4 separate regions of the Homo sapiens genome follow, and all the other regions are linked to region 2. The links come from fine-mapping of genetic effects on gene expression. A gene starts in region 2. Each other region holds a variant in brackets. All regions are shown on one strand. Distances are between the middles of the regions.

Evidence for each region.
Region 1: its variant is fine-mapped to the expression of OXSR1 in whole blood (TOPMed, PIP 0.96).
Region 3: its variant is fine-mapped to the expression of OXSR1 in esophagus muscle (GTEx, PIP 0.98).
Region 4: its variant is fine-mapped to the expression of OXSR1 in whole blood (TOPMed, PIP 0.98).

What each region holds. Positions count from the first base shown.
Region 1 is chr3:38,253,900-38,256,573 of GRCh38, forward strand. OXSR1 (oxidative stress responsive kinase 1) reads left to right here. Exons shown (of 18, transcript NM_005109.3): 18 at 1-1,585. Among named protein-coding and RNA genes, the nearest start is that of SLC22A13, 11 kb to the right of the region's middle. The variant G/A (reference allele first, on the strand shown) is at 1,427.
Region 2 is chr3:38,163,916-38,166,602 of GRCh38, forward strand. It overlaps OXSR1 (oxidative stress responsive kinase 1), which reads left to right and starts at 1,622. Exons shown (of 18, transcript NM_005109.3): 1 at 1,622-2,031. The coding sequence starts at 1,962. It overlaps LOC101928234 (a long non-coding RNA gene), which reads right to left and starts at 1,561. Exons shown (of 5, transcript XR_940733.2): 1 at 1,482-1,561. RefSeq lists enhancers at 297-1,496, 657-736, 887-1,016, 1,287-1,386, 1,780-2,395 and silencers at 1,627-2,016, 2,067-2,116.
Region 3 is chr3:38,287,984-38,290,670 of GRCh38, forward strand. All of the region lies in intron 1 of SLC22A14 (solute carrier family 22 member 14), which reads left to right. Among named protein-coding and RNA genes, the nearest start is that of SLC22A14, 7.0 kb to the left of the region's middle. The variant A/C (reference allele first, on the strand shown) is at 1,594.
Region 4 is chr3:38,088,384-38,091,070 of GRCh38, forward strand. DLEC1 (DLEC1 cilia and flagella associated protein) reads left to right here. Exons shown (of 37, transcript NM_007335.4): 10 at 1-5. Among named protein-coding and RNA genes, the nearest start is that of ACAA1, 47 kb to the right of the region's middle. The variant T/G (reference allele first, on the strand shown) is at 1,575.

The sequences.
Region 1 (2,674 bases), 90 kb after region 2:
TCTCTGTGTGCTGAAGCTAACTCAAGATGGAAAGTGAAACCACATGTGCCGTGACCTTTAGGTTTTATGAGTAGACAGTGTTCATTTGATTTTCTACAGAAATAATATAAATTATTCTTTAGGTTTAAAAAAGAGCACTCATAATGCAATATGTGAATAATCAGTGAGGTTGATTTTTCTTTTTTCCTACCGTTTCATAGTCTTTGTCTAACTGCTAGTAACCCTACCGAGTTTTATATATGAGTGGGATACTCAATCTGGCCTTAAAAAGATACACAAAGATGGGCTGTGGGTCCCTGGAAAGGGGGAGAGTTGCCCTTTACAGAATCACTCGAGCCCTTTCCAGCACTGTTGGTCTGATGAACAAGGTTGTTTTACCTTATTTTCTCTTGGAACATATCTGAAAACCTTCCCCACAAATAACTTGTCACACCTTTTGTTTCATTCTGAGTCTTTAGTTTTAGTCATGGGCTTTCTTCACCTGCTCTAGGTGCAAAGGCATGTTGGGAAAGAGATGGATGTTGGGGAGGAAGAGAGGAGATGGATTTCAGTTGGGAGTTAGGAGGAGAGTAGGTGAGATGATCAGACACCGGAGTTCAACGTCCCAGCAGTCTTGGTAAAAGGAGGGAGCCTGCTGAGCCAGGAGGGAGAAAAGAAGATTGACCAGCTTGCTAGAAAAATACTTAGCTTTTCTTTTTCTTTTTTTGTGGAGGGGGGACGGAGAGGAACAAGGATGGGGAGGTAGGAATGAGGTATAGAAAAGAGATAGCATCTTCTTTGGCACAAGACTAGTGGCTTACCGCTTACCTTAGAGTTTTGTTTTTTTTTTTTCAAACCCATCAAAATCTACTTATTTATGAATCCAAGGGGTGGCAGCATCACTCTGTTCTAGCATTCTTTGTGGAGATGGTCTGGTGCCTAGCTGGGAGTGAGCAGCAGCCCATCCCCTGTTCACTTTCTCTAGCCCATCATTACCTGTGAACTGCAGTGGGGCAGTCATGGCAAATAGAATTGGGCTGGGGTTTCTCCTTCTTTTCAGTTCATTGTTTGCCCTGCTAGGAATTAGAAGACAGACACCATGTCCCAGGACAGTGTTACTTCTTCTGCATGATGTGTGGTAGACTCCCTTTGCTGGCTTGTGCAGTGATACTGAGAAAATACATGAACAGAAACTGCCCAGGTGGAACAGCACGTAACCTAGTGAGTGACTGTACTCCTTTCTAGGAATGCTGATTCAGAGTGCACCTCTTTGACTAGGTCCCAGGATCCCCTTGTCCCTGGAGTAGGGACTAACTATAGCACAAAGTAATATGTGCCAATGCTATTTGTGAAATGTTTGGTCTTTCTAAACGACTAAAGGATTTGTTGGGTTTTTGCTTAAGTTTTGAACCAAATCCTAGAGCCAGCTGATAATATTTAATAATCT[G/A]GAGGAGAGAATAATGATGTACCAATAAGTGGAGATTCCTCCTTATGATGTATGCTAGGTTATGGAAGATGTAAAATATTCAACTTTTTCCTCCTTTTTTTGGACTTTGTATTTTACTGCATGTTTTCTTCATTTTTAATCAATAAAGAGTAAATTGTCCTTAGTGGTGTATGGACGCTTTATTTTAGTGGCCGTTGGCGGAGAGCTGTGGGTTGTGGGTCAAGGAATCACCACCAACTTTAATTGTTCATGCGAATAGAAGCCAAAGTACATATAAACTGTAAAGTGTGTCTGTTGATCTACAAATTATCTAGAACCATTAAAGCCATTATATAGTTGGGGAAACTGCAACCCTAAAAGGGAGGGATGAGATCAGCCCAAGGAATTGGATAGGATGGGATATGGAACTCCTTTTATTATCTTTTGATCTTTTTTAAATCTTTGGTTTTGCTTATGCTGTTGGGCAAGGAAGGATGCCAGATTCAAGCCCTTGGGAGTCTCTTTCGAAAGTTCAGAACAGGGCTGAACTTATCTCTTCTTGGCTTTGATATTGCAATGGTGAAGTTACATGTAAGATTCTAGGCTCCTTTGTATTCCTGTTATCCTCCCACTGCAGGAGGAATCTTCCCTCATCATCTGCCCTTCCCAACAGCAGTGGCTTTTGATCCATGATAACACTGCTTGTGGGTCCTGGTATTTCAGAGCTCAGGGCTGTGGAGCCTTGGAGTTGACAATACTGTTTGGCCTACAGCTAGTTGAGTTTGCTTTCAAGATAAGCAAGTTATAAAAGTGGAATCAAACTATTGTGGGGATAGGAAGGAGGTGCTTGTTACTCATAAGTGACCATGGTATATCTGGAGGGAAGGGAAGGGGTCAAGGGCAAATTGAGCTTCCACTTGCCCATTCTTTCTGACAAGATCAGGTTGTATCACTAGGCTTGGTTCCTTAGCTTTATTTGTTTGGCAGCAATACTCAGTGCATCCATTCAGGGATTCCCCCTTTGGGTCAGGTCATCTACCCCAAGGTTTTTTTTTTTTTCTTTAATGGACTTTAATTTTTAGAGCAGTTTTAGTTTCACAATAAAATTGAGTAGAAATTACAGAGTTCCCACACACCTCCTAACTCCACCCACAAACAGCCTCCACTACTGTCAACATCCCCCACTAGAGTAGTACATTTGATACAATTGAGTGTACATTGACACACTATTATCACCCAAAGTCCATAGTTTACATTAGGGTTCACTCT
Region 2 (2,687 bases):
TCAGGGACATGTGTTGATGTTATCTTTAGTTTTTATAGGGAACCAAACATCCAGTTATTTTAGTTTCTTTGGCTAATGTTTAAAGTTATTACTGCCCTCTTGCTTATCAAGGGGTTCATTAACTTTTCAAGGCTAGCTAAGTGCCGGGAATTTCTCTTGAAGTAACTCAAGATTTTCCTTTATTTCCATGGTTGAGGGCCTGCAGGCCCTAAAAGGGGTCCCTGCTCCGTCTCAGCTGGGCCTAGGTGAAGGTCTCTTCCTTTTTCTGAGACGGTGTCTCCGTCTGTTGCCCAGACTGGAGTGCAGTGGCATGCTCTCGGGTCACTGCAACCTTCGCCTCCTGCTTCAGCCTCCCTAGTAGCTGGGATTACAGGCGCCAGCCACCACGCCCAGCGATTTTTCTGTATTTTAGTAGAGAGGGAGTTTCACCATGTTGGTCAGGATGGTCTCGAACTCCTGACCTCAGGTGGTCCGCCCGCCTCCGCCTCCCAAAGTGTTGGGATTACAGGCGTGAGCCACCGCACCCGGCCTAAGGTCTCTTCCTTAAAGACTGCCGTTGGACTGAAAGGTGTCCAACCTAGAACAGTTTCGCACCTAGCCCTATCCCTGTTGGATGCTCATTATTTTTTAAAATCCAATTTACCAAGCGTGTTCAGTCTTCAGCTCGCTAATTTCTCTAACGGCCGTACGTAGTCAAACTGAGAAAACTGTTCAGTGGGGGCGACAAAAGCCAACGCCCGTGAGACAACCCCCAAATCCGTGGGTCGATCTCACTTGTTTAATACCCCAAGCCCTGTCCGGGGGGAAGAAAGACAACCTCCCGAGTCCCTCAAGGCAGGTGCTTATTTGAGCTTCAGATCTAAAGCTGCGAATGGACAGAACCCGCCCAGTGCAGGGTGGACCCGCGAGAGACAGCGCCGCGACAAGCGTTAGAGAGAACGTCCGCCTTGAAAAAAATGTCACCAGGCAAACTTCCAGTTTCACTCCGACCAGTGGCCCAAGGCCTTTTATCCTAGTTGGCAGTGGTCCACACCCAAAGGCTACCCCACCCAGCCGCTCCCTCAGGGTTTCTCCACACCCTGTAGAGCCTTTCGCACGTCTCGAGGGTGTGACGGTTACGCCGTGACGTCACTCCAGAGGAAGTGGTAAGACGAGCGCGGTAACGGAGCTCTTGAAGGGCTGCAGCCCTAACACGGAGAAGCGCGCTAAGAGCCTGGAGGCGGGACCAATTTATGACTGACGTCTACCCACACCCATTGCTTTTCTGATTCCTTCTCAAACAAACCAATGAATGCGACGACGGAGACAGCAGCGTGCCCCAGGCGCTAGAAGTGGCTCTGCCCCTTCTACTTTGCTGCCCTTTGGTCGCCATGCTTAGTGTGGCTACTGCCTCTGTGCTACTTGAGGCTCTCCTACGGCTTTTCGATGCCTTCGATGAACCTCTACCTAAGCACTTCTTCCCTTTCACCGCGAACTCCTACCTTCTCGGGTTTCTAGCTTGCTCACTTTACATCCAGCCACACTGGAGATGGCGGCCGGAGGCGGGCCCGAGGTGGGGCGTGACCAGCGCAGTGACGTCAGCGCGCTGCGTGTCGGCAGGTGGAGGAAGAGGGGAAAGTTTGGCCCGTGCGTGGGGCTGGGGTGGAGGGCGGGACAGAGGGGCTGGGCCCAGGCAAAGCTTCTGTCGCTGCTGCTGCGGAGGCCGAGGACAGGACGTGGGCTGGGCCGGGCAGTGCCGGACTCGGAGGAGCAGGAGGCGAGGTCCGCCGGAGCTCTGAGCCCCCGCTGCTCTGCCGCGCGGTGACCCCGCGCCCCGGCGCCGTCCGACCCGTGGCTGTTCCGAGACGATTGGTGGGGGCGCGGCGGCGGCGGCGGCGGCTGTTGGGGGTGGGGAGACGCGCGGCGAGGAGACGAGCGAGGTCAGCGAGTTTGAGGGAGGACCGCGAGCCGCTGCCGCCGTCATGTCCGAGGACTCGAGCGCCCTGCCCTGGTCCATCAACAGGGACGATTACGAGCTGCAGGAGGTGATCGGTGAGAGCAGGCGCTGCGGAGGGGGGAGGCGCGGCGCTGGGAGGCGGGGGACACGGGAACGTGGGGAGCCGCGGGAGCTCGGGGAGCGCAGCCCTCATAGGAATTCGTGGGGCGCTTGTGGGGCTGGGGGCTTGTAGGACGCTTGTGTCGAGGAGCGCGTGTGAGACGGGAAGGGGGTTTTGAGGCGCGCGCCTGTGAGGTGGCGTGGGGTGGGGTGAGGCTTGAGGGGGCTCAGGAGAGATTTGTGTACAGGATTCTCAAATGTGTGGACAGGAGCGGCCCATGTGTCTTGTAGAGAAAGAAAGTGCAGGTGTGGGACAGGCCTTTCCGAGGCTGTGTGAGAAATGGGATCTTGAAGTGGGCACAGCCATCGATTTCTGGGATTGTGGGATAGATAGGGAGCTTTAAGTTTTTCCTCCATCCGTGCTGGGGCGAACTGGGGATCCTCCAGGTGAAGCTGCAGGAACCGCGCTGAGCAACCGAGACCCAACTTACGACTCCTTCCAACTGACTTTCCAGTCGGGGAGGTAGACATTAAATAAGAAGACAAAAAGAAGTAAGAAGGGCTGGGCGTGGTGGCTCACGCCTGTAATCCCACCACTTTGGGAGGCCGAGGCGGGCGGATCACGAGGTCGGGGGTTCGAGACCAGCCTGGC
Region 3 (2,687 bases), 120 kb after region 2:
AGTTCAGTGGCATTAAGTAATTCACATCATTGTGCAACCCTCACTACCATCCATCTCCGGAACGATTTCATTTTCCCAAGCTGAAATTCTGTACCTACTACATAATAACTCCCCTTTTCCTCCTCCCTCAGTCCCTGGTAACCACCATTCTACTTTCTGTGTCTATGAATTTGACTAGGTACCTCATATAAGTGTAATCATACATGTCCTTTTGTGATTTGGTATTTCACTTAGCAGAATGTTTTCAAGGTTCATTCATACTGTAACATGTATTATAATTTTATTCATTTTTAAGGCTGATCTATATTCCATTGTATGTATACACCACACTTTCTTTATCCATTCATCCATCCATGGACATTTGTGTTGCTTCCACCTTTTGTCTATTGTGAACAATGCTGCTGTGAACATGGGTGTACAAATCTGTTTGAGCTCCTGCTTTCAATTCTTTTGTGTATGTACCCAGAATTAGATTGTTGGATCAAATGGTACTCCTATTTTTAATTTTTTTAGGGACCATCATACTGTTTTCCATGGTGGCTACACCCTTTTACATTCCAATACAAAAGGGTTCGAATTTCTCCACATCCTCACCAATATTTGTTTCCTTTTCTTTTAAAAAATTAATAATTGTCATCCTAATGGGTGTCTTGTACATATTTTGTTAGGTTGTTTCTAATCTATATTTCAATATTATAAATGGTATCTTTTAAAGTTTCCCATTTAAAAAAATCATGTTAGTTTGAAATGATTAAAAAAATTAATAATAGTCATCCTAATGGGTGTCTTGTATGTATTTTGTTAGATTGTTCCTAATCTATATTTCAATATTAAAAATGGTATCTTTTAAAGTTTCCCGTTTTTAAAAATCGTCTTAGTTTGAAATGATTTTAGGGTTTTAACAAAAGTTGTGAGACTGGGCACAGTGGCTCATACCAGTAATCCCAGAACTTTGGGAGACCAAGATGGGAGGATCACTCGAGGCCAGAAGTTCAAGACCATCCTGGGCAACAAAGTGAGACCTGATCTCTACAAAAAATAAAAAAATTAGCCCTGCATGGTGGCACACACCTATAGACATAGCTTCTCTGAAGGCTGAGACAGAAGGCACACCTAAGCCCGGGAGTTCAGCTGCAGTGAGCTATGATTGTGCCACTGCAATCCAACCTGGGTGACAGAGTGTGACTCTATCTCTACAAAAAAAAAAAAAAAAAAAAAAAAATTGCAAAAAAATGAACACAGACTTCCCATTCCTTCCACACCCAGATTCCCCTAATGTTGGCATCTTACTTATCTAACCCAGAAAATTAACACTGACATGATACTATTAACTAATCTATAGACCTAACTTGAACTTGGCCAGTTCTCCCACTAACATTCTTTTCCCAGTCTGAGATCCAATCCAGGATCCCACACTGTGATTCGTTGTCATGTTGTTACCCAGGGGGTCCTTGCTTCCAGAGCTCCCAAGATGGTGGCGGGCTGCTTCCAAGATGGCAGCAAGCCTCTTGTTCTCTGACCTGGGGTTCTTGGCCTCAAGGATTCTAAGGAATGGAATCTTGGGCCATGCGGTGAATGTTATAGCTCTATTAG[A/C]AGCTGTGGGTCACGGAAGAGAACCATGAAACCCAGCTACTAGTGTTCAGCTCGATTAGGATGAACCCAGGCACTTAGCCATGCGGGAACAATGGCAAGCCTTTAGCCCGATCCGGAGTGGCAATGGGCGCCTCACTGGATCAGGAGCAGAGCAGACACCCTGCCAGATCCGGAGGGGTGGAAGTCAGCGGCGGGTCTGCAACAGCGACAAACAGCAGTGGTGGACGGCAAGCGAAAACTTAGCTTGAGCTGTAACAAATATGGACCAGAAGAGTGTGCAATTGCAAGATTTTATACAGTGAAAACAGAGCTCCCATACAAAGGGAGGGGACCCAAAGGGGGTAGCTGTTGCTGGCTTGAATGCCTGGGTTTATATCCTGATCATTGTCCCTCCTGCTGTGCTCTCAGGCAATAGATGATTGGCTATTTCTTTACCTCCTGTTTTTGCCTAATTAGCATTTTAGTGAGCTCTCCTTACTATCTGATTAGTCGGGTGTGAGCTAAGTTGCAAGCCCTATGTTTAAAGGTGGATATGGTCACCTTCCCAGATAGGCTTAGGGATTCTTAGTTGGCCTGGGAAATCCAGCTAGTCCTGTCTCTCAGTTCTCCCTCTCAACAGGAAAACTCAAGTGCTGTTGGGGAGGTTGGCCAATGACTGCTCTAACTGCTTCCTGCGGAATTGGGGCGTAGTAGGGGTCATGCAGTTGAGATTTCCTTGGGAGGGGCGCCTTCGATGTCATCAACATTGGAGCGTGGGCTAGCAGGCCAGTCCAGGGGTCCGTGGTAGATCTTAGTCATGGACTGCATCTGGGGCTCCATTTGAAGATCGATTTGTAGTTTTACAGCTTTGATTCTGGAAGAGACAAACTTAACAAAGAGGTTAAAGAGACAGGGATTGAAATGTATGGCCTGCAGTGTAGGGGATTATTTCTTTGGCACACTTTACAGGCCCTGACTATCTGCTTGACAGTTTTTAAAAGGCCTAGTCCAGTAAACAATAATTTGGCCATCTGATGGGTGCTATCAATGCCTAAGTGAAAGGTTTGGTGAAGGATTTTAAGTAATTTTCATTGGTTAGCTGCAGGCAAAAGTAT
Region 4 (2,687 bases), 76 kb before region 2:
TGGAGGTAGGTAATCAGACATTGGCATGTATTTCCTCAACTGCTTGCATGCTTGCATTTGTCTCTGTTTTCATGACTCAAGTGTCCAGTCCCATCCCATATCACAGCCTTAGTGACTTCTGGGTAGACGCATATTCTTGCATTCTGTAGGGTGATGTCAGATGTCATTTGACTGTCTTATGAGCATTTTCACAAAGCAAATGCAGATAGCCCTAGCATCACATCACAAACCTGAGCCTTGCTAGTCCACACCTTTAGTCTGGGAGCTACCTCCACCAATGTCCAAGCTGCCTCCAAGATCTTCGCTTGGTTCTTCAGTCTCTCTTGGGTCTTCCCTCCCCCAGGCCCCTCTATCATCTGGTACCTGATTATTGCGGTTATTGTGGCTTTGTTCTCACTTTCCTGCTTCATCCTCAGTTTGTATAGTCAGCAAGGCCCAACTCCGTTACGCCTCATCCTGAACCTCTGCAGAAGCTCTCAGTGGTCTGCCCCTGGCTGTGGGCGTCTCCTTTCCTAACTGGCCCCTTTTGCTGCCCCCTTCAGCTGATCACACCTGCTTGCTGGTCCCCAGAGGTGCCCATGAGAAATGGTGATACTTCCTGTCCCTGTTGCAGCACACTGCCACTCTCCCCGACTCCTGGTCTAGGAGTCTGACTCCACTTCATGTGACTGGGTGTGGGCTGCTACAGACATGCTTGGCCTTTCACACTAGCCTGCCGAGGGAGGCCCCTGACATTCAGGAGCAAAAACCGTCTGGCTTCTGGGGGTGGATTTGGCCTGTGCCATATCACCAGGTAGTGAGATCCAGCAGCCCTTATTCTTAAACTCAGCTGCACATTGCAATCACCTGAGAGACCTGGAAACAACACCAAGGCCCTATCCCTGAGGTTCTGAGTTCACTAGACTGGGCTGTGGCCTGGGTGCCGGACTTCTAAAGTCCCCCAGGGAATGCTGGTGTGCAGCCAAGTTGGAGTTCAACTGCCACAGCGACTCTGCCATGCTGTCAGGAAGGGCTTCCTCTTATCAGCTGCTTTCTAGTTTCAAGTGCCCAGTAGGTTCTGCAGCCCTAGGATGTGGCTCTCTTATTCATGTCCCTGCTCATCTGATCCCTGATGAGAAACTAGTTCTTGGGATTGAGACTGAGCCAGTTCAGGGGCTTTGTCAGGCCTCATCTACTGCTGAGGGGCAGGTTGGGTCTACAAGGCCCATACACAGGCCAGGTTCTCTGTTCTCTTGGTGTAGTCCAGGACTTGTCACAGGCTCATCGAAGCTTTAAGGAATTGGAGCTGCTCTGCCCTGGACATCCCCCTCATCCCATCCTCCTGGGATCTCCAAGTAAAGGAAGAGGGTAGCAGCAGGACTCTTAGGGGAGCAGTGAGGGAGCTGGGGAAGGCTTTCCCCTTGGCATTTCTTGCGTATTTTGTTTACTGATTGTTTGGGGGTTTGTCTGTTCCAAAATGTATTCATAGTTCCAAATAAGAAATACATTTGCATGATTAAAAATTCAAAAGAGAGACTGGGTGCAGTGGCTCAGGTCTGTACTCCTAGCACTTTGGGAGGCTAAAGCAAGAGAAC[T/G]GCTGAGTCTGGGAGTTAAAGACCAGCCTGGGCAACATAGTGATATACTGTCTGTATAGACAATTTTTAAAGTAAAAAATAAATTCAAAAGAGCCAGGTGTAGTGGCTCACACCTATAATCTCAACACTTTGGGAGGTCAAGATAGGAGGATCACTTGAGGCCAGGAGTTTGAGTTTACAGTGAACTGTGATTGAGCCACTGTACTCCAGCCTGGGCAACAGAGTGAAACCCTGTCCTAAAAATAAATAAATAAAAATAAAACATTCAAAAGATGTAAACAGGTAAACAGTGAAATGCTCCCTTTCACCCCAGTTCCTCAGCCATCCAGAGGCCATACCTGGCCAGTTTTCTGAATGCCCTTCCAGAGATAGTCTATGCCCAAATAAGCAACTGCACATGTTTTTACCCCCATTTTTTTCTTCACACACAAAGTTGCCCACTCTATACTCTGTTCTTTGCCTTGTGTTTTCTACTTAACTCTATATCTTAGAGATCATTCTCATATGTTTTAGTAACTGCATAGTATCCTACTGTGTGAATGGACCATAATTTAGTTCAGCAGTCTCCTGCTGATTGACCTGAAGATTTTTTTCTGATCTCTGGCTACAAATTATGTATAAATTATACATACATCACTCTGTCCAAGGATGAGTCTACCCACAGGATACAGTCCTTGAAGTAGATTTGCTGATCCAGCGCTTTGTGCCCTCATAATTGTAAGGCATGTTGCCAAAATCCTTACCATGCGGATTGTACCAATTTATACTTTCAACAGCAGTATGTAAGGGTGTCTGTTTCTTTACACCTTTGCCAATACAGTATATTATAAAACTTAGAAACTGTTCATGGACGTTGTATATAAAAACATATACAAAAATAGAGAGAATAATGATCATCCATGTATTCATTACTCATCTTCAACAATTATCAACCCTTGGCCAATCTTATTACATCTATACCCCTCCATTTCCCTCAGACATTCCCCACCCTGCTCTTCTAGATTATTTTGAACAAAATCAAGACAAAATATCATTGCATTTAACAGAATGAAACTAGACCTGTGTCTCTCACCATATACAAAAATTAACTTATTAATAAAATGGATTAAAGAT